4 linked regions of the Homo sapiens genome follow. The protein of the gene in region 3 purifies or fractionates together with the protein of the main gene of each other region. This does not show direct contact. Each region holds a gene or a part of one and is shown on either strand. Other genes may lie near its edges.

The links.
Region 1: the proteins of RAB33B (region 3) and CHAF1B purify together in Homo sapiens (affinity purification with mass spectrometry; one large-scale study listed by BioGRID and IntAct). This does not show direct contact.
Region 2: the proteins of RAB33B (region 3) and UFSP2 purify together in Homo sapiens (affinity purification with mass spectrometry; one large-scale study listed by BioGRID and IntAct). This does not show direct contact.
Region 4: the proteins of RAB33B (region 3) and CHM purify together in Homo sapiens (affinity purification with mass spectrometry; one large-scale study listed by BioGRID and IntAct). This does not show direct contact.

Annotation. Positions count from the first base shown.
Region 1 is NC_000021.9:36,403,016-36,411,442, reverse strand, and holds part of CHAF1B (chromatin assembly factor 1 subunit B), read right to left. Parts: intron 2,683-8,427; coding exon 2,613-2,682; intron 2,070-2,612; coding exon 1,978-2,069; intron 1-1,977. UniProt on the Homo sapiens protein: Acts as a component of the histone chaperone complex chromatin assembly factor 1 (CAF-1), which assembles histone octamers onto DNA during replication and repair.
Region 2 is NC_000004.12:185,409,295-185,415,964, reverse strand, and holds part of UFSP2 (ufm1-specific protease 2), read left to right. Parts: intron 1-97; coding exon 98-255; intron 256-617; coding exon 618-810; intron 811-2,092; coding exon 2,093-2,239; intron 2,240-3,551; exon of another isoform or gene 3,552-6,670. UniProt on the Homo sapiens protein: Thiol-dependent isopeptidase that specifically cleaves UFM1, a ubiquitin-like modifier protein, from conjugated proteins, such as CD274/PD-L1, CYB5R3, DDRGK1, MRE11, RPL26/uL24, TRIP4 and RPL26/uL24.
Region 3 is NC_000004.12:139,458,632-139,467,058, reverse strand, and holds part of RAB33B (ras-related protein Rab-33B), read right to left. Parts: intron 1-8,427. UniProt on the Homo sapiens protein: The small GTPases Rab are key regulators of intracellular membrane trafficking, from the formation of transport vesicles to their fusion with membranes.
Region 4 is NC_000023.11:85,959,361-85,964,058, forward strand, and holds part of CHM (rab proteins geranylgeranyltransferase component A 1), read right to left. Parts: intron 4,693-4,698; coding exon 4,305-4,692; intron 1-4,304. UniProt on the Homo sapiens protein: Substrate-binding subunit of the Rab geranylgeranyltransferase (GGTase) complex.

The sequences.
Region 1 (8,427 bases), on a different chromosome or scaffold from region 3:
CAAAGTAAAACCACAGAAACAAGGCTTCTGACCAGGTGCAATGGCTCACGCCTAGAATCCCAGCACTTTGGGAGGCCGAGCCGGGTGGATCACTTGAGCTCAGGAGTTTGAGACCTGCCTAAGCAACATGGCAAAACCCCGTCTCTATCAAAAATACAAAAATTAGCCAGGCGTGGGGGTGTGTGCCTGTAGTACCAACTACTCAGGAGGCTGAGACAGGAGAATCGCTTGAACCCAGGAGGCGGAGGTTGCAGTGAGCTCAGATTGCACCACTGTACTCCAGCCTTAGTGGCAGAGGAAGACTCTGTCACAAAAAAAAAAAAAAAGAATATTTATAAGAATAAAAATACATCCAGCATCCACTAAAGTAAAAGTCAGTGTCTAGTATCTAATCAAAAAGTACCAGGCAAACAAAAACAGGAAGATATGACCCACAATGAGGAGAAAAAAATCAAAACCAACCTGTATACAAGGACATTAAAAGAGCTATTATAACTGCACTCTATATGCTTAAGAAGCAAGAGGAAACTGAGGCGGGCAGATCACCTGAGGTCAGGAGTTCGAAACCAGACTGGCCAACATGGCAAAACCCTGCCTCTACTAAAAATAAAAAAAGTAGCTGGGTGTGGTGGCGCACACCTGTAATCCTGGCTACTTGGGAGGCTGAGGTGGGAGATTCACTTGAACCTGGGAGACGAAGGCTGCAACGAGCCGAGATTATACCACTGCACCCCAGCCTGGGCAACAGAGCAAGAAAAAAAAAAAAAAGAAAGCAGCAAGAGGAAAAATGGAGCATGGAGAGGCACAGAATATATAAGGAAAACCCAAAGTGAATCTCTAGAGATGAGAACCACAACAAAGAAAAACACACTGGATGGGACCAAGGGCAGAGCATGCAGAAGAAAGGGTTAGCAAACTCAAAACACAGCTATAGAGACTTCCAAAATCAAACACTGGAAGAAGAAAAAAACAAAAAAAGTAAGTAGTATCAAAGGCCAGGAACTAATTTCAAAGGACCTAATATAATACATGTGTAATGGGAGTATTTGAATAAGAGAAGGGAATAACAGAAATAACATTTGAAGGAAAAATGGCTGAAACTTCCCAAATGTAATAAAAACTATAAACGGATAGATCTACGAAGTTCAATGAACCCCAAGCACAAGAAAACAAAGAAAATGGCTGGGCATGATGGCTCACGCCTATAATCCCAGTACTTTGGGAGGCCAAGGTGGGTGGATCACCTGAGGTCAGGAGTTCGAGACCAGCCTGGCCAACATGGCAAAATCCCATCTCTACTAAAAATACAAAAATTAGCTGGGTGTGGTGGCATGCGCCTGTAATCCCAGCTACTCTGGAGGATAGGAGGGAGAATCCCTTGAACCTGGGAGGCAGGGTTTGCAGTGAGCCAAGATTGCACCACTGCACTCCAGCCTGGGCGACAGAGCAAGACCCCATCTCAAAAAAAAAAAAAAGAAAAAGAAAATTGATAATGAGAGACATAGACAAACAAAAGGAGTACGTCCATTCCTTTTAAAGTGCCTTAAGCAAGAAAATATATCCTGAAGAAAGAAAAAAAAAAAAAAACTGACATGTATTTTGATAACCCCAGTCTTTGCTCCAGCTTTTAAAAATAACTAAACCAGGCCGGGCACAGGGGCTCACACCTGTAATCCCAGCATTTTGGGAGGCCGAGGCAGGTGGATCACTTGAGTCCAGGAGTTCAAGACCAGCCTTGGCAACATGGTGAAACGCTGTCGCTACCAAAAATACAAAAATTAACCAGGCTGATAACCTGGTCTCAAAATAAATAAATAAATAGATTTAAATGTAAAAATAAAATATTTTTAAAATAACTGAACTGAACCAAACCCAGATACCCACCTTTCCCCATAAGACAGAATCCAAATCTCCACCCCACTCTGGTGACCTGTTTCGGAGAGAAAACATAACACACCCCTGAGGCTCTGAGGATACCTGTTTCCACCACTGGCCTCAGTTCAAAGTAGACCGGACAGCAGCGAACAGCAAGAGTGGCTTTTCCAGGACATGGAAGATGAGCGATGGGCCTAATGGATTAATTGCAGTGTTAGGAAAAGGCACTGTGACTAAGCAAAAGCAAAAATAAAAGGTAAACATTTTGGCAGGGCGCGGTGGCTCACACCTATAAACCCAGCACTTTGGGAGGAGGAGGCAGGCGGATCACCTGAGGTCAGGAGTTCAAGACCAGCCTGGCCAACATGACGAAACCCCATCTCTACTAAAAAAAAAAAAAAAAAAAAAATACAAGCCGGGTGCAATGACTCATGCCTGTATTCCCAGCACTTTGGGAGGCCGAGGCAAGCGGACCACTTGAGGTCAGCAGTTTGAAACCAACCTGGCCAACATGGTGCAACCCCATCTCTACTAAAAATACAAAAATTAACTAGGAGTGGTGGCGGGCACCTGTAATCCCACCTACTCAAGAGGCTGAGGCAGGAGAATCACTTGAACCCGGGAGGCAGAGGTTGCAGTGAGCAGAGATCGCACCATTGCACTCCAGCCTGGGCAACAAGAGCGAAACTCCGTCTAAAAAAAATGTAAACATTTCAAACATTTCCTTGACTGCATACCTTTTAAGATTCTTCCTGGAGAAAACATAAGTGGTATTCATTACATTTTCACCAGATTCCACACATCCAGCTGGGGAACAGGGAAGGGAGGGAGAGGAAAGAAAAGTCACTGTTTCAGCAAACTGTTCACCAACAGAAACTCAAGAGCCTTCAGGTCCGGTTTGCAAAATACTTCCCCCTGCAGTTATATTCTCTGGACAATGTTGTGACAGAGCACAAAAACATATATTCCGGCACTGTCTGTTCTCAGCCCTTACTCCAGTTCTACCTACCTGTCATCTCCACCTACCTGTGGGCAATCCCCGGGGACCTGGTTCTGATCTTGGGCGAGGAGAACATAGTGAGCCTTTGCCATAGGGCACCGTTGAGCCTCCAGGCAATTCCTCGATTGAAGCACCGTGACTAGATTCAGCTGCCCAGGCTCCTTTCTCCCTAGGACCCTCATCTCTATTTCCTGGATTCCAGCCTTGGATGCCATCCAAAGGCTGAGACTCGCCTTTCCCCAACTTCCCTATCCAGCCATGAGGCTGCCAGGAGACCTTGCCCTCTGCTGAAACCTCCAGCCTCCTTCAGAACCTGACTTCACTCTGGGGAACAGTCCCCATCTGAGAGCTCTTCTACACTCACCCCCTGCTGTACTTAAAACAGTTCAGCCCTGTCAGAGTGACCATCATACACTGCTGCTCTTGGAAACATCTCCCTGTTTTATGCTATTTCTTGATACATATACACACACGTAACTTTACATATGACTGTTTCATATCCACCAGGGAGGGCAGTAGACAGTATCAATAGTCTTTTTTATTATTATTATTAATACATTCTACATAGCTGCCCTCTTTTTTTTTTCTTTGAGATGGAGTCTTGCTCTGTCACCCAGGCTGGAGTGCGATGGCGTGATCTTGGCTCACTGCAACCTCCACCTCCCAGATTCAAGCAATTCCCCTGCCTCAGCCTCCTGAGTAGCCGGGATTACAGGCACCTGCCACGATGCCCGGCTAATTTTTGTATTTTTAGTAGAGAGGGGGTTTCACCATGTTGGCCAGGGTGGTCTCGAACTCCTGACCTCAAGTGATCTGCCCTCCTCCGCCTCCCAAAGTGCTGGGATTACAGGCGTGAGTCACTGCACCCAGGCCCCTCTTTTCATCCCACTCCATTCTTCCATCCCCAAGAAATCCATTTTAACATTCAACAAACCATTATGTCATCTGTATATTTCCTCCATGCTCACATAATCATTACAATCAGTTATAACTCAATCACATGTATACCTCTATGATATTTTTTATTGAGTCCATTTGTTTTACAAAACTGACACTTCTCCTTATTTTGCTTGTTTCAATCAACTACTCATGAAAGTTAACTTGCATAGCACTGATGCATTATTTTTTTGTAGCTGCATAATATTTACTGCAAGATTCATTCACCCAGCCTCTGTTAATGAGTATTTTTTTGGCTTTTGGTTTTTTACCACTATAAACAATGCTTGCAATAAGCATCCTTGAACATATACTTTTTTTTTTTTTTTTTAGACAGAGTCTCACTCTGTTGCCCAGGCTAGAGTGCAGTGGTGCGATCTTGGCTCACTGCAACCTCTGCCTCCTGGGTTGGAGCGATTCTCCTGCCTCAGGCTCTTGAGTAGCTGGGATTACAGGTGTGCATCACCATGCCCGGCTAATTTTTGTATTTTTAGTAGAGACAGGGTTTTGCCATGTTGGCCAGGCTGGTCTTGAACTCCAGACCTCAGGTGATCCACCCACCTTGGCCTCCCAGAGTGCTGGGATTACAGGCTTGAGCCACCATGCCCAGCCAGTTTCCAGTCTTAATTGGGTCTTCTCCATTCCTAGAATGTCCTCCTATATTTCCTTACAAGAGTTTTCTATTTTTACCTTTTGTGTTTAAGTACTGAATTCACCTGGAATTTATTTTTTACATCTAGGCAAGGGGTCCAATTTTACCTTCTTCCACATAGCTGGCTACCCCAGCACTACTCATTCAATAATAGAGTCCTCCCTTTGCAAGATCCATCTCTTGTACAACATGGTGATTATGGTTCATAACAATGTATTATATTCCTGAAAAATGCTAAGAGATATAAAGCGTTCAAACCACAGAAATCCTAATTATGTGAGACCATGCTATGCTAATTAGCTAGATTTAGTCATTCCACAACATATATATACTTCAAAACATCATGTCATACACAACTACATACAATTTCATCTGTCAATTAAAAAAAAAAGGAGGCCAGGTGCAGTGGCTCACGCCTGTAATCCCAGCACTTTGGGAGGCTGAGGCGGGTGGATCACCTGAGATCAGAAGTTTGAGACCACCCTGGCCAACATGGTAAAACCTCATCTCTACTAAAAATACAAAAATTAGCTGGGCATGGTGGCCGGCGCCTGTAATCCCAGCTACTTGGGAGGCTGAGGCAGAAGAATCACTTGAACTCAGGAGATGGAGGTTGCAGTGAGCCAAGATCACGCCAATGCTCTCAAGCCTGGGCGACAAGGGTGAAACCCTCTCAAAAAAAAGAGGAATAGGTCTTTGTCCAATCTCAACACTTCCCAACCTTCTTAATGACATACTCTTGTCCTATCTGCCTTCAGTGTCTAATTCTCTTGAGAATTATTTAAGTAACATACAATTAATTACAAATAAATAATAGATTTTTTTCCACTGGAACAGCACCTGAGGTCATATATTAAATCGCCTTATATCCTGAGATCTTTTTCTGGATTCTGTGTTCTGGTCCACTAATCTATTTGTTTGGTCCTATAGCAACACCATATTGATTGGCTAAAAGTAGTGTTATAGGATCTTCTGATATGTGGTGAGGCAAATGCCCTCCCAAGTATCACTGTTTTTTTTTTAATACTTCTTTGGCTATTCTTCAGCATTTATTCTACTAAACAAAGCTGAGATTTCATCCAATTAAAAAAAAACTTTAATGCAATTCTAATTGGAAATGAAATTAGTATGTTAATTGTTAGAACACGACATATCTTTCCATTTGTTCAGAACTTGCTTTATAACCTTCAGTAAGACCTTCTAGACTTCTCCATAAAGGTCCTGCCCCTTTCTCATTAAATTTACTTCTGCCTGGGTGTGGTGGCTCACACCTGTAATCCCAGCTCTTTGGGAGGCCGAGGCGGAAGGGGTGCTTGAGCCCAGGAGTTTAAGACCAGCCTGGGCAACATAGCAAGACCATGTCTCTACAAAAAAATAAGAAAATTAGCCAGGCATGGTGCTACACGCCTGTGGTCCCAGCTAGTAGGGAGGCTGAGGTGGGAGGATTCCCTGAACTCAGGAGATCAAGGCTGATGCAGTGGGCCATGATCACACCACTGTACTCCAGCCTGGGTGACAGAGTGAGACCCTGTCTCAAAAAATAAATAAATAAATAAATTTACTCTATGTATTTTGCAGGTTTTGCACTACTCTGAATGAAATATTTCTCCTCCTTCCATTTCTAAGTACTCACTGCCAATATAGACGAAAGATAGGAATTTTTATATATTTTATAATATCCAGCCATCTTATCAAATTATTTTAAAAATTCTAATACTATTTTTAAAATCTCTTGGATTTTCTAGAAATACAATCCTATTGCAGTTTTTTATCTGTTCTTTTCCAATCTTTGTAATTTCATTTTCCTGTTTTTCCCACACTTACTAACACCACAAAGAACAATAACGTTGATAACAGACATCCATTTGCTACTTGATTTTAATTGAAAATATTTTTAGAGTGGCCAAATAGTAAAGGATTTGCTACTGGGGCTGGGCGCAGTGGCTCACACCTGTAACCTGTAATCCCAACACTTTGGGAGGCCAAGGTGGGCAGATCACCTGAGGTCAGGAGTTTGGGACCAGCCTGGCCAACATGGCGAAACCCCATCTCTACTAAAAATACAAAAATTATCTGGTTGTGGTGGCAGGCGCCTGTAATCTCAGCTACTCAGGAGGCTGAGGCAGGAGAATCGCTTGAACCCAGGAGGTGGAGGCTACAGTGAGCCAAGATGGTGCCACTGCACTCCAGCCTGGGTGACAGAGCGAGACTCTGCTTTTTAAAAAAAAAAAAAAAAAAAAAAAAAAAGGCCAGCGCAATGGCTCACACCTATAATCCCAGCACTTTGGGAGGCCAAGGTGGGCAGATCACCTGAGGTCCGGAGTTCGAGACCAGACTGACCAACATGGAGAAACCCCGTCTCTACTAAAAATACAAAATTAGCTGGGCGTGGTGGCGCATGCCTGTAATCCCAGCTACTCCGGAGGCTGAGGCAGGAGAATGGCTTGAACCCGGGAGGCGGAGGTTGCTGTGAGCCGAGATCGTGCCATTGCACTCCAGCCTGGGTAACAAGAGCGAAACTCCATCTCAAAATAAATAAATTAATAAATAAATAAAATAAATAATTTAAAAAAAAAAAAAGGGCCGGGCGTGGTGGCTCAAGCCTGTAATCCCAGCACTTTCGGAGGCCAAGGCAGGCGGATCACAAGGTCAGGAGTTTGAGACCAGCCTGACCAACATGGTGAAACCCCGTCTCTACTAAAAATACAAAAATTAGCTGGGAGTGGTGGCGCACACCTGTAATCCCAGCTACTCAGGAGGCTGAGGCAGGAGAATCGCTTGAAACTGGGAGGCGGAGGCTGCAGTGGTGAGCCAAGATCGTGCCACTGCACTCCAGCTGGGCAACAGGGCAAAACTCAGTCTCAAAAAAAAAAAAAAAAAAAAGGATTTATTACTGGGTTTAGTGAATAACTTTTAATAACTAACTTTAGTAAATATAACCTAAACAACTACTTATTCTTAGTCCTGAGACTTCTTGGGCCAAAGTGTCATTCGCACATGTTCCGCAGTGTTCTTTAAAGCCCCACCCACACAGCTGCATGTGTGATTCACGCCCTTCTCAGGCCCTCCCTGGCTCAGCTGGGATGGGACTCAGTGGCAAACCAAGACAGTGCCCTCCCGTTTGGCCCAACCCTGGGCTATGTTGTCATCTCTATGCACAGGATGGTCCTGGAGCCACGGCAATGAGCAGACATTCTCCTCTGAGAACACTGTGGCCACAATAATGCCTAGCCTTATCTTGCTGGGCTGAGCCCCTTGCCTTCCTAGGGACATAGGGACAATAAACCTATCTAGTCCTTGCTACTTGGCTGACCTTTTGATTTTGACCACTGCTGCTTCCACAAGTTTGTCCATGAGTCTAATCCTGTCACAAATGCGCTTTATTGAGGAGAATAAAAACAATAAAGGAGCTTTATCTTTGGCTTTAGCGCTATGGCTTCCATACACATGTTAATGAATGAAAAAGCATTCATTGAAAGGGTTTAAATAGTAAAGTTTCTTTTTTTTTTTTTTTTTTTTTTTTTAGATAAGATATCACTCTGTCGCCCAGGCTGGAGTACAGTGGTGTGATCTCGGCTCACTGCACCCTCTGCCTCCTGGGTTCAAGCGATTCTCCTGCCGCAGTCTCCCAAGTGGCTGGGATTACAGGGTATGCGCCACCACATCATTAATTTTTGTATTTTTAATAGAGAGGGTGTTTCACCATGTTGGCCAGGCTGGTCATGAACTCTTGACCTCAAGTGATCCGCCCGCCTCAGCCTCCCAAAGTGCTGGGATTACAGGTGTGATCCACTGTGCCCAGCCAAAAGTTAAATTTATCTAAGAGAAAATGCCTATCATTTTAAACTCATTACTCCCAAACTTTTCTGCACATTACAATCACTTGGAAATCTTCTTAAAATTCCAAAAGCCAGGCCACCCAGACCAATTACATACACTACAATCTCTAGGGATGGGACATAGG
Region 2 (6,670 bases), about 46 Mb from region 3:
CTTAATAATAAATACATTTTTGAAAAGTCTTTTTACTTACTCTTTATATTTAGTGTTTAATGCACTACAAGTTGACTATTACTGTTTATCTATATAGCATCAAATAGTAAATATAGATCTTATGCTGGAAATGTCAACCTCCCTGGCAGCTGTAACGCCCATCATTGAAAGGGAAAGCGGAGGACACCATTATGTTAATATGACTTTACCTGTCGATGCAGTTATATCTGTTGCTCCAGAAGAAACATGGGGAAAGTAAGTATTTTTATAGTACCACTGCCACATTTGAATGAGGGCCCTTCCCCAAACCCATGTTTGTATATCCTGTAGGTATACCTAAGGTGTGATTTTCTCCTTGTTTATTATTAACCTAAGAGCCATCTATTAATTAAATGGTTATTTGGAGGAAGTAGGGTAGCATGCTAAAACCTGGAGGATTTCCCTTTATCCACAAAGAGCAAATACACAGTTTCTTTTATAATGTATAATTCAGACTTCCTTTAGCAAACCTGGTCCAATCAAGTTTTTTACTATACTAAGGATATATTAGCTCTGTACTTTTCTTTATTGTAGTCACTATAACTTTTGTTAATACACTTATATATTTCCCCCCACAGAGTTCGTAAACTCCTGGTTGATGCAATTCATAATCAACTAACTGACATGGAAAAATGTATTTTGAAATATATGAAAGGAACATCTATTGTGGTCCCTGAACCACTGCACTTTTTATTACCAGGGAAAAAAAATCTTGTAACAATTTCATATCCTTCAGGAATACCAGATGGCCAGCTGCAGGCCTATAGGAAGGTAAAACCAGTTCATCTATTCTTAGAAAAAACAATAATGACTATCATTCATTTTGTATTTAATTATATATTTCCACTAAATGGAAGGTATTTTGTGATTTAACTTAAAAGTGTGGAATTTAGACTATTCATTTTACACATTATTTAATTTCTGTTCTCATGAAACTTTAAGTAGTATTAATGACAAAATGTTATGTTGAACCTATATGTAACATTTTAATTTTAAATGCTCGGTGTGGTTCATATATTCTGTGAAATTTTAATATTTTTCCATAATGAAATATAGAAATGGTGCTTACATGCCTAAAGTTGCTGGTATTAACAGATTTCTATAACTTTCCGATTTGTGAAAGAGACAAGATTACAGTTAGGGAAGGAAAATGATAACTTATGCTAATTCTGAATAGGATTTATGGTAATACTCCACAAGTAAGGTTATTTGGGCTTTATTAGAGGAATTTTGGAGAAAACATGACCAGCATTCAAAGTAATGAGATTTACTCATGACTGGTTTTGGAGTGCATCTTTTTGATATGTGGACTCGCTTAGAACCTATCAAATTAGACCGTGGAGCATCTTCCTAATTTCTGTCCTTAGGGAGAGCGAGAATACCCTGACCCTCTGTATGTGGAGGTGACTTGGTTTGTAGAAGCAATAGCTACAGGAGCTGATCTTTTAAAACCACTGGAGTACAAGATATGATAAAGAACATGTCAAACTTTTTAAAATACCTATTACATGTTTTTATATAGTTGGGAAAATAACACATTTTAAACATATATGTGTATTTGTTTTCCTGCCATATTGGTTGGCTTTAGACCACTAACTTCTACTCTGTAGTTTAATCACTACCACTTACAATATAAAATATTTGTAAGGCACTCGACACAATTTTGCAAAATACTTTGATATAATTATTGTTAATTATAATTTACTCATTTACAAGGCTATTTCAAAACCAGTCTTTAGCCTGGATGTATTTTAACAGACTATGTTGTAATAAATAATTATTTAAAAATTAGTTCTCTTACTCTAACAATTTATATTCATTTTTCTCTGTTCCCTTCCAGTTTCTACCCAGATACAGACGTAAACGAAAATAAATCTTACTTGGTTTTAGTTCAGTTTTCACCATCTTTGATGTTAGTGAATTAAACCATAAGTGTTTGGAAACTTTTATAACCTATATATAATTTTCCATGTTTAATAACATCTTTATTTATTGACTAGGAATCTAAATCACCAACATTTTTTCTTTTTCTGTTGATTCTGATTTATTTTAGGAGTTACATGATCTTTTCAATCTGCCTCACGACAGACCCTATTTCAAAAGGTCTAATGCTTATCACTTTCCAGATGAGCCATACAAAGATGGTTACATTAGAAATCCACATACTTACCTTAATCCACCTAACATGGAGACTGGTATGGTGAGTTTAACTAATTATTTATGGGAGTCACTGGATCAGTAATGTTATTAGTTGTTTTTTGTTGGTACCCAGTAGGAGACTTGATTCATTATGTATTCATTCCTAAAACATGATTTATCACCCATCTCTGTTAACAGACATTGCTTAAGATAGCAGTAATTAAAAATGGTCTAGAAAAGTTAGTAATAGGTAGATATACCACATTTATCTTACTAAAATTCTCTTATTTCTTTAAAGGCTTGTCCCATTTTTTTTCATTCTGAACCTGAGAAATCATGCTAATTAAGGGCATAGTCTACCCAAACCACACTGTAGGATAAATCTTTTTTTGTTTTTTTGAGACAGAGTCTCGCTCTGTCACTCAGGCTGTAGTGCAATGGTGTGATCTCAGCTCACTGCAACCTCCGCCTCCTGGGTTCAAGCAATTCTCCTGCCTCAGTCTCCTGAGCAGCTGGGGTTACAGGCACCTGCCACCACACCTGGCTAATTTTTGTATTTTTAGTAGAGACAGGGTTTCACCATGTTGGCCAGTAGCTAGGGTTACAGGCACCTGCCACCACACCTGGCTAGTTTTTGTATTTTTAGTAGAGACAGGATTTCACCATGTTGGCCAGGCTGGTCGTGAACTCCTGACCTCAAGTGATCCGCCATGTAGGCCTCCCAAAGTGCTGGGATTACAGGCATGATTCACCATGCCCAGCCACTGTAGGATAAGTCTAATGAGGAACTAGACTTATTTTCCATGTAACATATACCCGGTTGCCAGGGATAGATCCTCCCTAAAGGTAGCTCAAATAAGAGTGAATTGGCGGAGGGTGGTGGAAGGGTTACTTTAAGGATACATGGAGGCCAGTGAGAAAGGACCTTATAAGGCATCCAAGATTAGGAATACCAATAGAGCTGGGCCTCTTAGAAACAGCAGCCCTGTGACTAGCAGGTGTCTTCAGTCTCTCTCAAGGACTCCGTGGATACCTTGGTGGCATTGCTATTGCTTTCTGTGTATGCTTGTGATCCTAACTGGCCTGTTCTTAACTTTTACTCTGTCTGCTCCACCTCATACCCTCTGTATCCTCACTGTTTCAGCTTGTGTGTCACTTTTTCCTGTTCTTCCTCAGCTGCCCAGTGTATGCCTCATTCCAACTGCATTTCCTGCTCCTGGCTGCCTGGCTAACTCTGCACCTCTCAGTTCAGATTCCCAAGAGAAAGAAAACTTGGCTATCGTATGGTGGCATTTATTAATACCTTCTGAGCGTCCAGGACTTTTGAGGAAATCTTAAGAATTAAAAAAATGCATATACGATACAGTACGTACCCTAGATGAGTTAGGGGCCCACTTGTGGTCTTGGTCATTAGAGTGTACTCAGGGCAGCAGATCATCTGCAAAAGCTGTGGGCCAACCAGCTTCCATAGAAAGTTCCTCACAAAAAGAATAGTTCCTTAGAAGAACCTGGACACACAGAAGGTATTGAATGAGTACTGATTGCTTTTTGACAATAAAATAGGTTCATTATATCTGTATTACAAGGTCGTAAGAAAAATATATACTTTACATATTTATCATGTAATATTTGATATGTACATATAACATATGCAAATTGTAAAGCACAGTGGGGAAATGAATACCAGGGAGCTCCTCCCTAATTTAAGAAGCAAAACTTTACCAGTCTGTGCTCTTTCCCTACCCACTCCTCTGCCTCCTCGACACAGTTCCAGGAGGAACTATTATGGGTTTTGTGTTCATCATTTCCTTCCTTTTTAAAAAGTAGTTTCAGCGTATATGTTACATATCAATCTCAGCAATGTCGCTTTTAGTATTGCATAGTTCTGAGTTTTATAAATATGGTATCATTCTGTACGTAGTCTCTGCAGCTTGCTTTTTCACTCAATATTACATATCAAACATCTCTGGTATTTTGTCTAACCATAGTTAATTATCTTTATGATTTTTTCCAAGTTTTTTTGCTGTTTAGACAATGAACATTCCTATACCTCTCGATACATATGTGCAACAGTTGTTAACATTTTGCTATATCTGCTTCATTTCTCCCTCTTTTTTCCCCCTCTGAACCATTTCAAGGAAAATTATAGATATATTATTTACCCTTAAATACTTTGGCACAAATCTCTCAACAATATAGATGTGCATTCATGAAATAAACTCGGTTTGGTTATGACTCATTATTTTTTATTCCCCTCTGGATTCCATTTGCTAATATTTTACGATTTTTGCATCTATGTTCGTGAATGATACTGGCTTATAATTTTCTTCTCTCATACTGTTCTTATTTTGTTTTTTTATTAGTGATATACTGGTTTACTAAATTAGTTAGGTTAATGTTCCTTTTTTAGTTTTTTAGAGAAGTTTATATAAGAGTGGTATGATCTTTCCTTGGTCATTTGGTAAAACTTGCCTGTAAAACAATTTTGGCGTAGCATTTTCTTTGTGAGAAGATTTTTAGTAACCAATTTAGTTTTGGTAACAGCTTTAGGACTTTTTGATTTTTATAAGTTATTTACCTAGGTTTTAATATATCTTGTAGTCATAATATTTTCTTTTTCATTCTTCATATCATTTTTATGCCTTGTGTCTTTTAAAAAAAAAAAAACTTTTGGCTTTGTTGGCCCCCTCTATTATAACTTCTGTATTTGATTTTATTAATTTTTGCTCTTTACTTTCTTTTTTTTTGCTCTTTCTTTGATTTATTGTCTTTCTTCTAACTTCTTAAGTTGGACATGTTAGCTTATTGCTAATATTTCTTTCTTTCTTTTTTTTTTTTTTTGAGATGGAGTCTTGCTCTGTTGCCCAGGCTGGAGTGCAGTGGCACAATCTTGGCTCACTGCAACCTCCGCCTCCTGGGTTCCAGCGATTATCCTCCCTCAGCCTCCCAAGTAGCTGGGATTACAGGAGGGTGCTACCACGCCTAGCTCATTTTTGTATTTTTTAGTAGAGATGGGGTTTCACCGTATTGGCCAGGCTGGTCTCAAACTCCTGACCTCGTGATCTGCCTGCCTCAGCCTCCCAAAGTGCTGGGATTACAGGCGTGAGCCACTGCGCCCGGCCTAATCTTTCTTTTTTTTGAGATGGAGTCTTGCTCGGTTGCCCAGGCTAGAGTGCAGTGGCATGATCTCAGCTCACTGCAACCTCTGCCTCCCTGGTTCAGGCAATTCTCCTGCCTCAGCCTCCCCAGTAGCTAGGATTACTGGCAATAGCCATACGCCTGGCTAATTTTTGTATTTTTAGTAGAGACAGGGTTTCATCATGCTGGCCAGGCTGGTCTCGAACTCCTGACTTTAGGTGATCTACCCACTCGGCCTCCCAAAGTGCTGGGATTACAGGCATGAGCCACCGTGCCTGGACAGCTTTCTTATTTTCTAATGTAAGCTTTTAAATTTCAAGCAAAGCACTGCTTTTAGTGTATCTTATAGGTTTAATTTGAAGGATTTTAGTTTTGTTCACTTCTAAGTATTTTTATATTTTTCTATTATGGTTTTTCTTTTGTCCATGTATTATTTAGAAGTGTTTGTTAATGTCCAAATATGTCAGAATTTATTTTTCTTTTTTGCTTTTTTTTTCTTCTTGTTTTAACTGGTTTCTGACTCTTGCCTCCTGGTCAGAAAGAATTCTAAGTGAAACTAACTCTGAAATTTATTGAAACTTGTATTTGTTCCCTAAAAAATAATAACATATTTGATGGCTTAAAACTACAAAAATGTATTGTCTCAGTTCTGGAGTTCTGAAAGTAGTATCACTGGGCTGACATCACAATGTCAGCAGGACCACCTTCCCTCCATAGGCTCTTGGGGAGAATCCATTCCTTAATCTGATGGCTGCCAGCATCCTTTGGTTTGTGGCCCCATCATTCCGATCTCTGCCTCCTCAGTCACATTACCTTCTCCTCCTATGCCCCTCTCTTTTAAGAATATATGTGATTGCATTTAGGGCACACTAGGATCCAGGATAACCTCCCCATCTTAAGATCCTTAATCACGTCTATGAATACCTTTGCTTTCCTTTTTTCTTTTACTTTTTGGCACAGAGGGTGCATTCACAAGTTCCAGGGATTAGGACATACATACCTTTTGGGAGCCACTTTTCAGCCTGTCACAATGGTCAAGTTATAAATTTTTCTATCTGTGCTTGGGCAGAATATATATTCTCTAATTGTTGGGTGAGGGTTGGTTCTATCTTGTCCCTATCTCCTCTCACTTAATTTTTTAAAAATATCATCAGTTTGGAGCCAGGCATGGTGGTGTGCAACTGTAATCCCAGCTACTCAGGAGGCTGAGGCAGGAGGATCACTTGAGCCTAGAAGTTCAAGACCAACCTGAGCAACATAGTGTGACCCAATCTCAAAAAAATAAAAACAAAAACCCAGTTCTTTAATAAAAAAAGACATATACATTCTTAGCACTATAAGTAAGAATTTATAT
Region 3 (8,427 bases):
AGACAGAGGCTGCAGTGAGCTGAGATCATGTCACTGCACTCTAGTCTGGGTGACAGAGCAAGACCCTGCCTCAAAAAAAAAAAAAAAAAAAAAAAAAGTTTGTGCTTCTAAGGACACTATCAAAGTGAAGAGACAACTCACAGAATGGGAGAAAATATCTGCAAATAAAATATATCTGAGGCCAGGCATGGTGGCTCACGCCTGTAATCCCAGCACTTTGGGAGGCCGAGGTGGGCAGATTATCTGAGCTCAGGAGTTCAAGACCAGCCTGGCCAACAGGGCAAAACCCCGTCTCTACCAAAGATACAAAAAATTAGCAGGGCATGGTGGCATGCACCTGTAGTCCCAGCTACTTGGGAGTCTGAGGCACGAGAATCGCTTGAACCCAGGAGGCAGAGGTTGCAGTGAGCTGAGATCATGCCACTGCACTCCAGCCTGGGTGACAGAACAAGACTATGTCTCAAAAAAAAAAAAGAAAAAAGAAAAGAAAAGACCCTTGAAATTCTATCTTTAGCATTTAGAAAGATATTTTGGTAATAAATTGGATGACCTATATAAAAGCTATCCAAGGGAACTAGAGCTGATTTTTTTCTCTTCTAATGACATTTTCTGTAACTCAGATGTTCAAGCATCACTTCATCAATGAAAAATGACTTATAATGTTTTAAGCAAATTATATTCACAAGATAAAAAATAAAAAGCACACGAAAAGGAAATATACCAAAATATTAGCAATGGTTGTCTCCAAGGTAATTTCTCCCTTTATTTCTACTTTTCTATTTTCCTTAACAAACATGCATGTCATTTATAAAAACAAAATTAAAAAAAGATGATTACGCAGAATTTAGACCCGCCCTCAAAGAACTGTGGATGTCCTCCACAAATGTAAGCGGTAATGATAAATGTTAACCCCAGGCCGGGTGCAATGACTCACACCTGTAATCCCAGCACTTAGGGAGCCTGAGGTGAGAGGATTACTTGAGCTCAGGAGTTTGAAACCAGCTTGGACAGCACAGTGAGACCCTGTCTCTACCAAAAGAGACCTTGTCTCTACCAGCTTGGGCAACACAGTGAGACCTTGTCTCTACTTTGTTCCTACCAGTGAGACCTTGTCTCTACTTTGTTCCTACCAGTGAGACCTCGTCTCTTAAAAAAAAAAAAGTGAGCTGGGAGTGGTGGCATGCACCTGTGCTTCCAGTTACTTGGGAGGCTGAGGTGGGAGGATCGCTTAAGCCCAGGAGATCAAGGCTGCAGTGAGCCATAATCGTGCCACTGCACTCCAGCCTGGGCAACAGAGTGAGACCTTGTCTCCAAAAAAACAAAAAAAAAAAAAAAAGAAGAAGAAGAAGTTTAATCCTAAGAAAACCCTTTGTTTTTAGATGAGACTGACTAAACAACATTCCTCTTCCCATTCCCTATTTAATAAATGGTGCTGGGAAAACTGGCCAGCCATATGTAGAAAGCTGAAACTGGATCCCTTCCTTACACCTTATACAAAAATTAATTCAAGATGGATTAAAGACTTAAATGTTAGACCTAAAACCATAAAAACGCTAGAAGAAAACGTAGGCAATACCATTCAGGACATAGGCATGGGCAAGGACTCCATGTCTAAAACACCAAAAGCAATGGCAACAAAAGCCAAAATAGACAAATGGAATCTAATTAAACTAAAGAGCTTCTGCACAGCAAAACAAACTACCATCAGAGTGAACAGGCAACCTACAGAATGAGAGAAAATTTTTGCAATCTACCCATCTGACAAAGGGCTAATATCCAGAATCTACAAAGAACTTAAACAAATTTACAAGAAAAAATCAAACAACCCCATCAAAAAGTGAGCAAAGGACATGAACAGACACTTCTCAAAAGAAGACATTTATGCAGCCAACAGACACATGAAAAAATGCTCATCATCACTGGCCATCAGAGAAATGCAAATCAAAACCACAATGAGATACCATCTCACACCAGTTAGAATGGCGATCACTAAAAAGTCAGGAAACAACAGGTGCTGGAGAGGATGTGGAGAAATAGGAACACTTTTACACTGTTGGTGGGACTGTAAACTACTTCAACCATTGTGGAAGACAGTGTGGCGATTCCTCAAGGATCTAGAACTAGAAATACCATTTGACCCAGCGATCTCATTACTGGGTATATACCCAAAGGATTATAAATCATGAGACTATAAAGACACATGCGCACGTATGTTTATTACAGCACTATTCACAACAGCAAAGACTTGGAACCAACCCAAATGTCCAACAATGATAGACTGTATTAAGAAAATGTGGCACATATACACCATGGAATACTATGCAGCCATAAAAAAGGATGAGTTCATGTCCTTTGTATCGACACGGATGAAGCTGGAAACCATCATTCTCAGCAAACTATCACAAGGACAGAAAACCAAACACCGCATGTTCTCACCCATAGGTGGGAATTGAACAATGAGAACACTTGGACACAGGGTGGAGAACATCACACACCAGGGCCTGTCATGGGGTTAGGGGAAGGGAGGGATAGCATTAGAAGAAATACCTAATGTAAATGATGAGTTAATGGGTGCAGCACACCAACATGGCACATGTATACATATGTAACAAACCTGCACATTGAATACCCTAGAACTTAAAGTATAAAAAAAAAAAAAAAAAAAAAAAAAACAGTATTCCTCTTCCCATCAATCCCGTTCAAAATTTTATGCTTTCTAATCATATCAAGTCTTCCAGAACACAGAGGTATGAAATTACCCCTTTTTTATTTTTATTTTTTGAGACGGGGTCTCACTCAGCCCCTCCAGGCTGGAATGCAGTGGCACAATCATGGATCATTGCAGCCTCCACCTACCAGGCTCAATCTTCCTGCCTCAGCCTCCTGAGTACCTGGGACCACAGGCGCGTGTCACCAGACCCAGCTAAGTTTTTACTTTTTGTAGAGACAGTGGGGGGGTGGTCACACTATGTTGCCCAGGCTGGTCCCAAACTCCTGGGGTCAAGTGATCCTCCCACCTTGGCCTTCCAAAGCTTTGGGATTATAGGCAAAAGCCATCATGCCCAGCCTGAAATAACTCTACACTTTACTGTAGAGCCATAAACGTAACTAATAATGAGGCATTTACAAAGGAATATCTAAAAAGAAGCTTCAAAATTTCTCTCATGGAATAACTAAATGATGGGAAGGCTTAGGGCTACTGCTGCCTGCTGCCTTCCAGGCCTGCACACTGAGATGAGAAGGCAAGGAGACAGGAAAGGAGCAGTGAGAGACCCAGCCAATACACGACAGGACAACTGATTAAAAACTGTTGACCATAAAAGGCTAGAGAAAACTTTGAAGGAGACAGACAGACAGACACTAGGCGAAAAGCAAAGCCTAGAAAACTCTTGAGGCTTAGCTATGAGTGGAATGGTTCATGATGTTTAAAAAAGAAGAGAAACTGATACTTTTGGACCCAAGGAAGTGAGACGCTTTCATCTGGTAAATGTTAAATTAGGAAATATTTTCAGAGAAATTTTTCCCAATTTAATACTTAAATATCTTAGGAAAAATGGCTAATATGTGCTCACAGCAATCTTATTGCCATTTTAAACATTATAAAGATAACATAATATATACTTGGCCAGGGGTGGTGGCTCACACCTGTCATCACAGCACTTTGGGAGGCCGAGGTGGGTGGATCACTTGAGGTCAGGAGTTCAAGACCAGCCTGGCCAACATGGTGAAACCCCGTCTCTACTAAAAATACAGAAAAATTAGCCAGGTGTGGTGGCACACGCCTTTAATAGGCTTGAACCTGGGAGGCAGAGGTTGCGGTTAGCTGACATCGCACCATTGCACTCCAACCTGGGCGACAGAGACTCCATCTCAAAAAGAAATTATTATTATCTTTTATGACAGGGTCTCACTCTTGCCAGGTTGGGGTACAGTGGCACAATCTTGGCTCACTGCAACCTCCACCTCCCATGCTCAAGTAATCCTCCCACTTCAGCCTCCTGAGTAGCTGCGACTACAGGAGTGTGTCACCACACCCAGTTAATTTTTGTGTTTTTTGTAGAGATGGGATTTCTCCATGTTACCCAGGCTGGTCTCGAATTCCTCGGCTCAACTGATCGGCCTCCCAAAGTGCTGAGATTACATGCATGAGCCATGGCACCTGGCCCAAATTCTTCATTTTAAAGGCAGTATTCCTTTCAAATAATCACAAAAATTTGTTACTTGTCTTCTTAGGAAGCTAAAATTTATTTATTTTAAAATTTTAACAGGGTTTAAGTGAACACAGACCAATACATGAAATGGCAGCACTCAGAATCAGTAGAGGTTGAGAGAGACTCCAGAAAGCTAAAATTTATTTCAAAGATTTGCCATTTGATTCTGTACACCAGACACACACATTTCTACTCCACATACAAAAAGCAAAGAGTTCTCTTGAGATGTCACTAATACCAGTTATGATGTTGTTTTACAACTTAAATTGTTAACAGAAGCTCTTATGTAGTTCTTATATAGATGGTCTTTTACATGAAATAATAAAAATGTGTTCTTTGAAAGAATAGGGGAAAAGGAAATTTAATAGTTAATCAGGGATGGAAAATTTGGATTAAAACCTTTAACATTTTAGGTCAAGCAAAAAGAGTATTAAATCAATTTAAAGTCAGATCATTTCTCATTTTGGATAATAAAACTACCAAAAGAGCTGTCATGGCCGGGCGCGGTGGCTCACGCCTGTAATCCCAGCACTTTGGGAGGCCGAGGCAGGCGGATCATGAGGTCAGGAGATCGAGACCATCCTGGCTAACACAGTGAAACCCCATCTCTACTAAAAATACAAAAAGTTAGCCGGGCGTGGTGGCAGGCACCTGTAGTCCCAGCTACTCGGCAGGCTGAGGCAGGAGAATGGCGTGAACCCGGGAGGCGGAGCTTGCAGTGAGCCCAGATTGTGCCACTGCACTCCAACCTGGGCGACAGAGCGAGACTCCGTCAAAAAAAAAAAAAAAAAAAAGAGCTGTCATCAACAACAAGAATCTACTATTAGTATTTAGCAGTAGCTAGGTTGCCATTTTTGTTAAAACTTGATATTGGAATTTAAACTAGAGATTCATGAAGTTTTATATAAAGGAATTATACGTATATATGAAATTTTTTTTTTTTTGAGATGGAGGCTTGCTCTGTCACCCAGGCTGGAGTGCAGTGGCACGAAGTCAGCTCATTGCAACCTCTGCCTCCCAGGTTCAAGCGATGACAGGCGTGAGCCACCATGCCTGGTCAAAATTTTTTTTAAATAAAGGATTTAATTACAGAATAATAATGGTGATAAGGAAGAGAGCAAGCAGTGAGAGAAAGCATTAGTTATCACCTTAGAGGAAAAAATACACACAATTTGGAACAGTAATCTTAGTTATCCATCCTCTTTCCCTATTCTTTCACTGCCTGTTTTTTTTCCCCACTACCATCTCTCTCCTGAAGGAATGAGCATTTACTCTTAAACTATTAATATTGATTTGGGGCTTAGCACATTCCATGTATACTCCAGGAACTCTGCTAAGTCCTTTACATGCCCTTATTTAATATATGCAACCCTATGTAATAATTACCCAATCTTCAGATGAGGAAACTGAGGTTTAAGTAATTCACCCAAGGCCACAAAACGAGTAAGTCTTAAGGCCAGAATTTAAACGTGGACTACCTGATTCTGTAGAGAATGCATGTTGTTTTCTCCAGCCTAACCCTCATTCTCCCTTCTATTAATAGCACCCTATTTTCCTTGGGAATCGGCCCTCCCCTGCTTTCCATTCACATGAACCACTGGCTCCCAGGGAGGGCATGTGACCTACGTCTGACCAATCAGAGGTTCGCACCCCCACACTCCCTGTCACTACCATAGTTTAGGAATGGGCATGTAGAGCTGCAGTTGGAACTGGCAGACAGAGAAATTTACTTCTAGGCTTTTTAGTTATATGAAAAAATAAATTCCCTTTCTGCTTAAACTAATTTGCTTAGAGTCCTCACACAGTCTCCAAAGCAAGAGATCTTGACCACTGATTCCAGAGAAGTAAGTAATTCTCTTCTCACCACCTCTGAATATACACACCAATGCTGCCTTCTTCGTCTTCGTAAGAAGTGACAGAAGAGAATCATAGGCTTCTGAAATCAGGCTAGAAAAACAACAGGAATTCTGACCTGGTTCCTGGGATCCTTCAGATAGTAGGAAAGCTTGGGTCTGTGAAAATGTATATTACTTACACCATGCCAGCCCCAGGACCAAACCCCAGCAATTCAAAGTCTTTTTCAGACCAGAAACTGCCCAAAAGTTTCTGAGCTAAGGGATCACAAGATTCTTCAGCATTCTTAGGATACCTGAACTGCGCATATTCTCATTCACTGAATTTCAATGCAAATCAAATCAAATCAAGAGAACCAGTTTGGTATCTCTCCAACCACCAATACCACATTTTAAGAAATAAAGTATCAATTTGATTCTGTTTTAAGGTAGGGTATAAGGTGACTTCATATAAAATATTTTTTGACTTATAAACATTAATTTACTTTTAATGAAGATCAACACAGAACAATAATTAGTAACCCAATTTATATTTTATATTTACACAGCATTCACTGAATGTCATCTTCATCATGCCATAAAAAAATTTAACAAAATTTCTACTATTCTCTCTAGGCATGTTAGCTACATTTTGTTCTATCCGTGCTTCCAAACTTCAACTTCATGTGCATAATTATTTCTCCTGTGTGCCAATCCGGTATTTGTAGCTGCCAATCAGTATTTCCATTTGAATATAGGATCATCTCAATAAACACATGACTAAATCATAATGTTACAGAGCCTGTCCAAATTCAATCTTCCACGTAGTCCCCCTTAGCTCCACTACCTACCTCCTGTCACCCAGACTCACAACCTCACTCATCTAGTCCTCTTCTTTCTCATCACCAACAGCCAGTTACTGAAGACTTTGGCTTTATCTTCAAAATACCTCTTCTATCACCCCTTTATTTTCCCTTATCACCTCAATTCTGGATTTCCAGAGTACCCTACCAACTGATCTCTCTGCCTCTATATATTCAACACTTTTCCCTGAGTACTTACTATGTGGTTTAAGAACTGAACTAGGCCGGACACGGTGGCTCACGCCTGTAATCCCAGCGCTTTGGGAGGCCGAGGCGGCAGATCACGAGGTCAGGAGTTTGAGACCAGCCTGGCCAACATGGTGAAACCCCGTCTCTACTAAAATACAAAAAATTAGCGGGGTGGGGTGGCAGGCGCCTGTAATCCCAGCTACTTGGGACGCTGAGGCAGGAGAATTGCTTGAAACCTGAAGGCGGAGGTTGCAGTGAGCTGAGACCATGCCACTGCACTCCAGCCTGGGCAACAGAGCAAGACTTTGTCTCAAAAGAAAAAAAAAAAAAAAGAACTGAACTAGACACTGAAAGAAGTCTATGGAATTACCAGACATGGATCCTGCCCTGAATAAAACTTAGTAAGGGAGGTAAGACAGGTATGTATGCAATGAGATAGAAATCATCTAAAGGTTCAGGTAAGGTGCTAAAAGAGTTCATAGAAGGAAGCTGACTGGAGGTGTGAGGAGACTCTTTTTTTGTTTTTAAGAGACAGGGTCTCATTCTCTTGCCCAGGCTGGAGAGCAATGGTGTGATCATGGCTTACTAGAGCCTCCAACTCCTGGGCTCAAGCAATCCTCCTGCCTTACCTCCTGAGCAGCGGGGACTGCAGGTACATGCCACCGTACTTGGCTGATTTTTTTAAATTTTTGGTAAAGATGGGGCTTCACTATGTTGCCCAGGCTGGTCTTGAATTCCTGGGCTCAAGTGATCTTTGGCCTCCCAAAGTGCCGGGATTACAGGTGTGAGTCACTGGAATCTGGCTGGCTGGAAGGTTTTTTTTTTTTTTTTTTGAGATGGGATTTGTTCTTAATAGAAACAACCCCATTAAGAAGAGGGCAAAGGACATGAACAGACACATTTCAAAAGAAGATATATCTGTGGCCAAAAAGCATATGAAAAAATGCTCAACATCACTAATCATGAGAGAAATGTAAATCAAAACCACAATGAGATACTATCTCACACCAGTCAGAAGGGCTATTATTAAAAAGTCAAAAAATAACATATGCTGGCAAAGTTGCAGAGAAAAGACAACACTTATACACTGCTGGTGGGAGTGTAAATTAGTTCATCCCTTGTGGAAAGTGGTGTGATTCCTCAAAGAGCTAAAAACAGAATTATCATTTGCTCCAGCAATCCCATTATTGGGTATACACTCAAAGGAACATAAATCATTCTGTCATAAAGACATCTACACATGTATGTTCATGACAGCACTATTTACAATAGCAAAGACATGGAATCAGCCTAAATGCCCATCAATGGTAGACAGGATAAAGACAATGTGGT
Region 4 (4,698 bases), on a different chromosome or scaffold from region 3:
CTTCATTACTTTCTAAAATATATTTTTTTAATCTTAATGATAGAATACACCAGGCCCTGAGGGTTTTGGATAAGAATCTATAGTCTTACACAAAGCCAGGTAGTTATAAGAAGAAATCAGTCCAGTGAACCTCCCTACCCCATCAAAAAAAGAAAAAAATATTTGTGATGCATTTACACTGAAAAAGTCAAATTATAAGGTACTTCTGTAATTCTAGAAGTCTGGGTTTATATGAGATATGTCTTTCTCAAAAAGTGAAGATGATGATTATTGCTGGCATGTATGGGAGAAATTGATTTAATCTTTCAACATCTCATAAGTAATATCAGAGAGATAAAATCAATAATGTAAACAGTATTATCTAGCATGTTAACCGTATGGTTAAATGCAACAGATTTGACTATTTCCTATATTAAGATACTCTTAATGCCTATAACTCAATAAATATTAAAAATGAATGTTACATCTATAATAAATAAATGGGAAAATTAGCTTTACTATACAAAGAAAAAGGAATCTCAAAAATCAATCTAAACCATTAGTCTGAGCAACTAATAAGTCAGTAAAGACTATCAGTAAATCAATACCATTCAAGTAAAATTTTATAAACTAATAGTTCAGCATTCTGCAAAACAAAATTGACATCACTTTTTTGAAGCTAATCTGATCATCCTGATTAAATATGGCACGTTACTTCATTACCCTCTTCCTAACACACTACATTACTGAAAGAGACCATGTTTTAAAGAATATATTGCCAATTCTTAACTCTATAATAATGATAAAAAATAGTTACTTCAAAAATCACTTGTTTAAAAAGATACACATTTGAGACTCAAGGATCCCTGCATAGCCATAATAATGTCACAAACATTAAGATATAAAATATGAAACTGCATTTTTATTTAATAAGATCCAATAAACCTTAAGGTTTAATGCCAGCTTGAAAAATAATGCATTTAAGATATCACAAGAACAAAAACAAATTTCAATTAAAATTATACTAGATTTTTGTTTCTGAAGCTCACAAATAATAAATGTGTACATATCAGAATCTAAGCCTCTTTTTCTTTTTTTTTTATTGAGACAGAGTCTCTCTGCTGCTCAGGCTGGAGTGCAGTGGCTCAATCTCAGCTCACTGCAACCTCTGTCTCCTAGGTTCAAGCGATTCTCCTGCCTCAGCCTCCCGAGTAGCTGGCATTACAGGAATGCAATGCCACGCCCAGCTAATTTTTTGTATTTTTAGTAGCACACAGGGTTTCACCATGTTGGTCAGGCTGGTCTCGAACTCCTGACCTTAGGTGATCCGCCCGCTTCAGCCTCCCAAAGTGCTGGGATTACAGGACTGAGCCACCACGCTCAGCCTAAGCCTCTTTTTCACTACCCTCTAAGCGATCTACCACAGTGATGAGGGGCTAAAGAGCAGTGCAATTTGATTACAATAATGGAAATTAGATTTATTAATTAACAATTTTTCCTTAGCATGTTGGTTCCATAATTATTAAGAGTATGGACTTACTTAGAAATGAGCTTTCATTTTAAGAATTTCATCTTTGACCTTCTCTATTAGTCTGAGCAGTATGACACTATACGTATTTTATTTAACTAACCTACCTTGAGCTATTACTTTTTAAAAGGCTATATACATGAATGTGTATTGTCAACTGTAAAGCCCCACAGTATTTAATTATATCATGATGTCTTTGAGGTTGAACGCATATAGAAATGTCAACTAGTTTGGAGATACTGAGTTGGACTTTAGAAAAGAGGTAGGTCTTTGGACGAGCACGGTGGCTCACGCCTGTAATCCCAGTACTTTGGAGGGCCAAGGCAGGCAGGTCACGGGGTCAAGAGATCGAGACCATCCTGGCCAACATGGTGAAACCCCATCTCTACTAAAAATACAAAAATTAGCCAGGCATAGTGGCACGCGCCTGTAGTCCTAGCTACTCAGGGGGCTGAGGCAGGAGAATCACTTGAACCCAGGAGACGGAGGTTGCAGTGAGCAGAGATGGCGCCACTGCACTCCAGCCTGGCAACAGAGCAAGACTCTGTCTCAAAAAAAAAAAAAAAAAAAAAAAAGGAGGTAGGGCTTTAGGGCTTTAAGATAGATATTTGGCAATCATCCTAAACTTAGACGTTTATTAACTGCAATTATTAGAACAGATAAAATTTCTAAGGAGTGACCAATTGCCCCAATAACATGGAATACATTGCTTTCCATCTAGCATGCACTGAATATGTATTAAATGACTTAACATTTTAAAAACGGAAAATTAATCTCCTGTATTACTATGGTTATATGTGATTAAGATACTTCTGGTTTTGAAAATGAGTACATTAAATGTTTATTAGTTATTTTGTAGAACGTATGAACCCATGAAACTCTGCAGGACGCAGTCCCAACTGCCTAGTCCACTGCCTCTAGACATGTTTGGTTTTTACTTACCATAAGAGAACTGGTTATTACTAACCATTCAAACCGATGAAAATACCCAGAAGTCTCCTTCAGGGTATCTTCAAATGTGTCAACTTCTAATTCAATTGTCTTTTTCCTCCCACAACCAGCATTCATTTTCTTATACAACTGAATAATTTTCTACACCAATTCCTACAATTGAAACAGCACCGTCTTCTACCATTTCCCTTTGCAAGATATATACTAAATTTCAGCTAACATAAAAGTTACAGACTTTTATGAAATAGCCTTGATTCTTAACCACATTTATATCATCATTTATTTAGGTAAAACATTCCAAATTCCAAGTAATTACTTCAAAATGGAATTGTCACACAAAGCCCATTTGTTATTTGACTTGTTCAGTTTTTATGTTTTGTTTAACCTATTTCATAGAGTACTGCTCATGGGACCAGGAAGGTTATTAGTGAGCTAGGATTAAACTTCCATCCACAGATGAACAGCCAAGGTAATGTGGAAAAAATGCTAGATTTCAAATCATGACAGGGTCAAAGTAGATGGAGGTGGGAGAGATAGTACGGAAGTATGAAGTAGAACCAATGCAATAGCCAACTATGCAAAATCAGACACAGAGTGCTACATGACAGACAGAAAGAAAAATGGGTAGTAAAAAGATATTTATATTTTCAGGCATCAAGTTCAAAGGGAGCAAGAGTATGAGGATATGGGATTTGCAGAAACAACTTGTCAAGGGAAATGTTTTGGTCCCTCTCTGTCCCCTATCACTTGGAACTTGAAGAAAGTACATTAAATTGAAAAGCCTAGTTCTGTGCTAGTTCTGTGGCAAGTCTTGTGCTATTCACTATCCTCTCCTACTTCTTTTCAATTACTTATTGTTAGCTCTCAACTTATAGGATTTAGTCTGTTTTTCTCTACTTTTACCCTGTCCTGTATCATGACCCTTTAAGGCCATAATCCTTTATCTTACTGATTTTCTATTCTTTTGCACTAAAAATAGTCTTGCTTCCTATAAACCAAATGCAATATTGTACGCTTCTAAGATGGAGGGACCTCCTGTGAAGTTACAGTGAACTAACATTCAAGTTAGTTATGTTCAGGAACATAACCGAAGACAATAGCTTTCTTCCCAGCCTTCCTGCCTCCATCACTATTAAATTTTCCTCTGAAGCTTTCAAACCTGAACACATGATTTTTTTGAGACTTTTTTCTTAAATTATACTTTAAGTTCTGGGATACATGTGCAGAAAGTGCAGATTTGTTACATAGGTATACACACGCCATGGTGTTTTGCTGCACCCATCAACCCGTCATCTACATACCCGTCATCTACATACCCATCATCTACATAAGTATTTCTCCTAATGCTATCCCTTCCCTAACCCCCAACCCCGACAGGCCCTGGTGTGTGATGTTCCCCTCGCTGTGTCCATGTGAACACGATTTTTAAAAATTCATTGGTTTATTCTGAGTATTCATCATCATACAGTTGTGAAAATAGTTACTATACATAAAGGCTAAAAGAATCGATGGAAATTGACTGTAAATAACATGGATTTCTAAACAGGTTCATTAGAATTTTTCTTTTGATAGAATTCATAGTGTCCAGAGAATATTAGGTTGTAGTATGTGCTCAAGCACAAAAGTATTCTTCAGGTATAGATTAAAAACATAATTAAAGCATTTTCATGTGAGCACTTTAAATATGTTTTTAATTTGTACTTAAGGAATATTTTAAATGAATTACAAACATCTGGCTACTATCTCTTTACAAAACAAATGTTCTGCATCTCAGAGAATTACAAAAACTGGGTTTATGGGCCCAGATACTGTTTTCAATGCAAAGATGGGTAAAATTAGTACTTACCTTTGATACTAAATCAATATTAAATCTCCTGCCTTCTTTAATAATTTGTGAGTAAGTAATTCTGTTTTTCTTTGGTTGCTCTGTGGTATCTTCTGCTATAGGCACATTTTCACTCATGTCTTCTGCTGAAGTTGATGGCACACAAGTTTTATCATCACAATGGTTTTCTTTTTCCCCTGTCACTTCAGCACCATTTACTTCTAGCGCATTCTCTGGATCGCTGCTTGGAGTTTGTTCTGTGAGCATTTCACAGCTCATAGTGCTTAATGACTCATCCTCCGTAGGCAGGAAGGCAGAATCTGCAGCTTCTGTGGAGTTTGCAGATGTCACAAGAGCATGATTTTTCTGCAGTGCACCAGCTTCTTCGACATCTTCATGCAAATCCTGACTAATA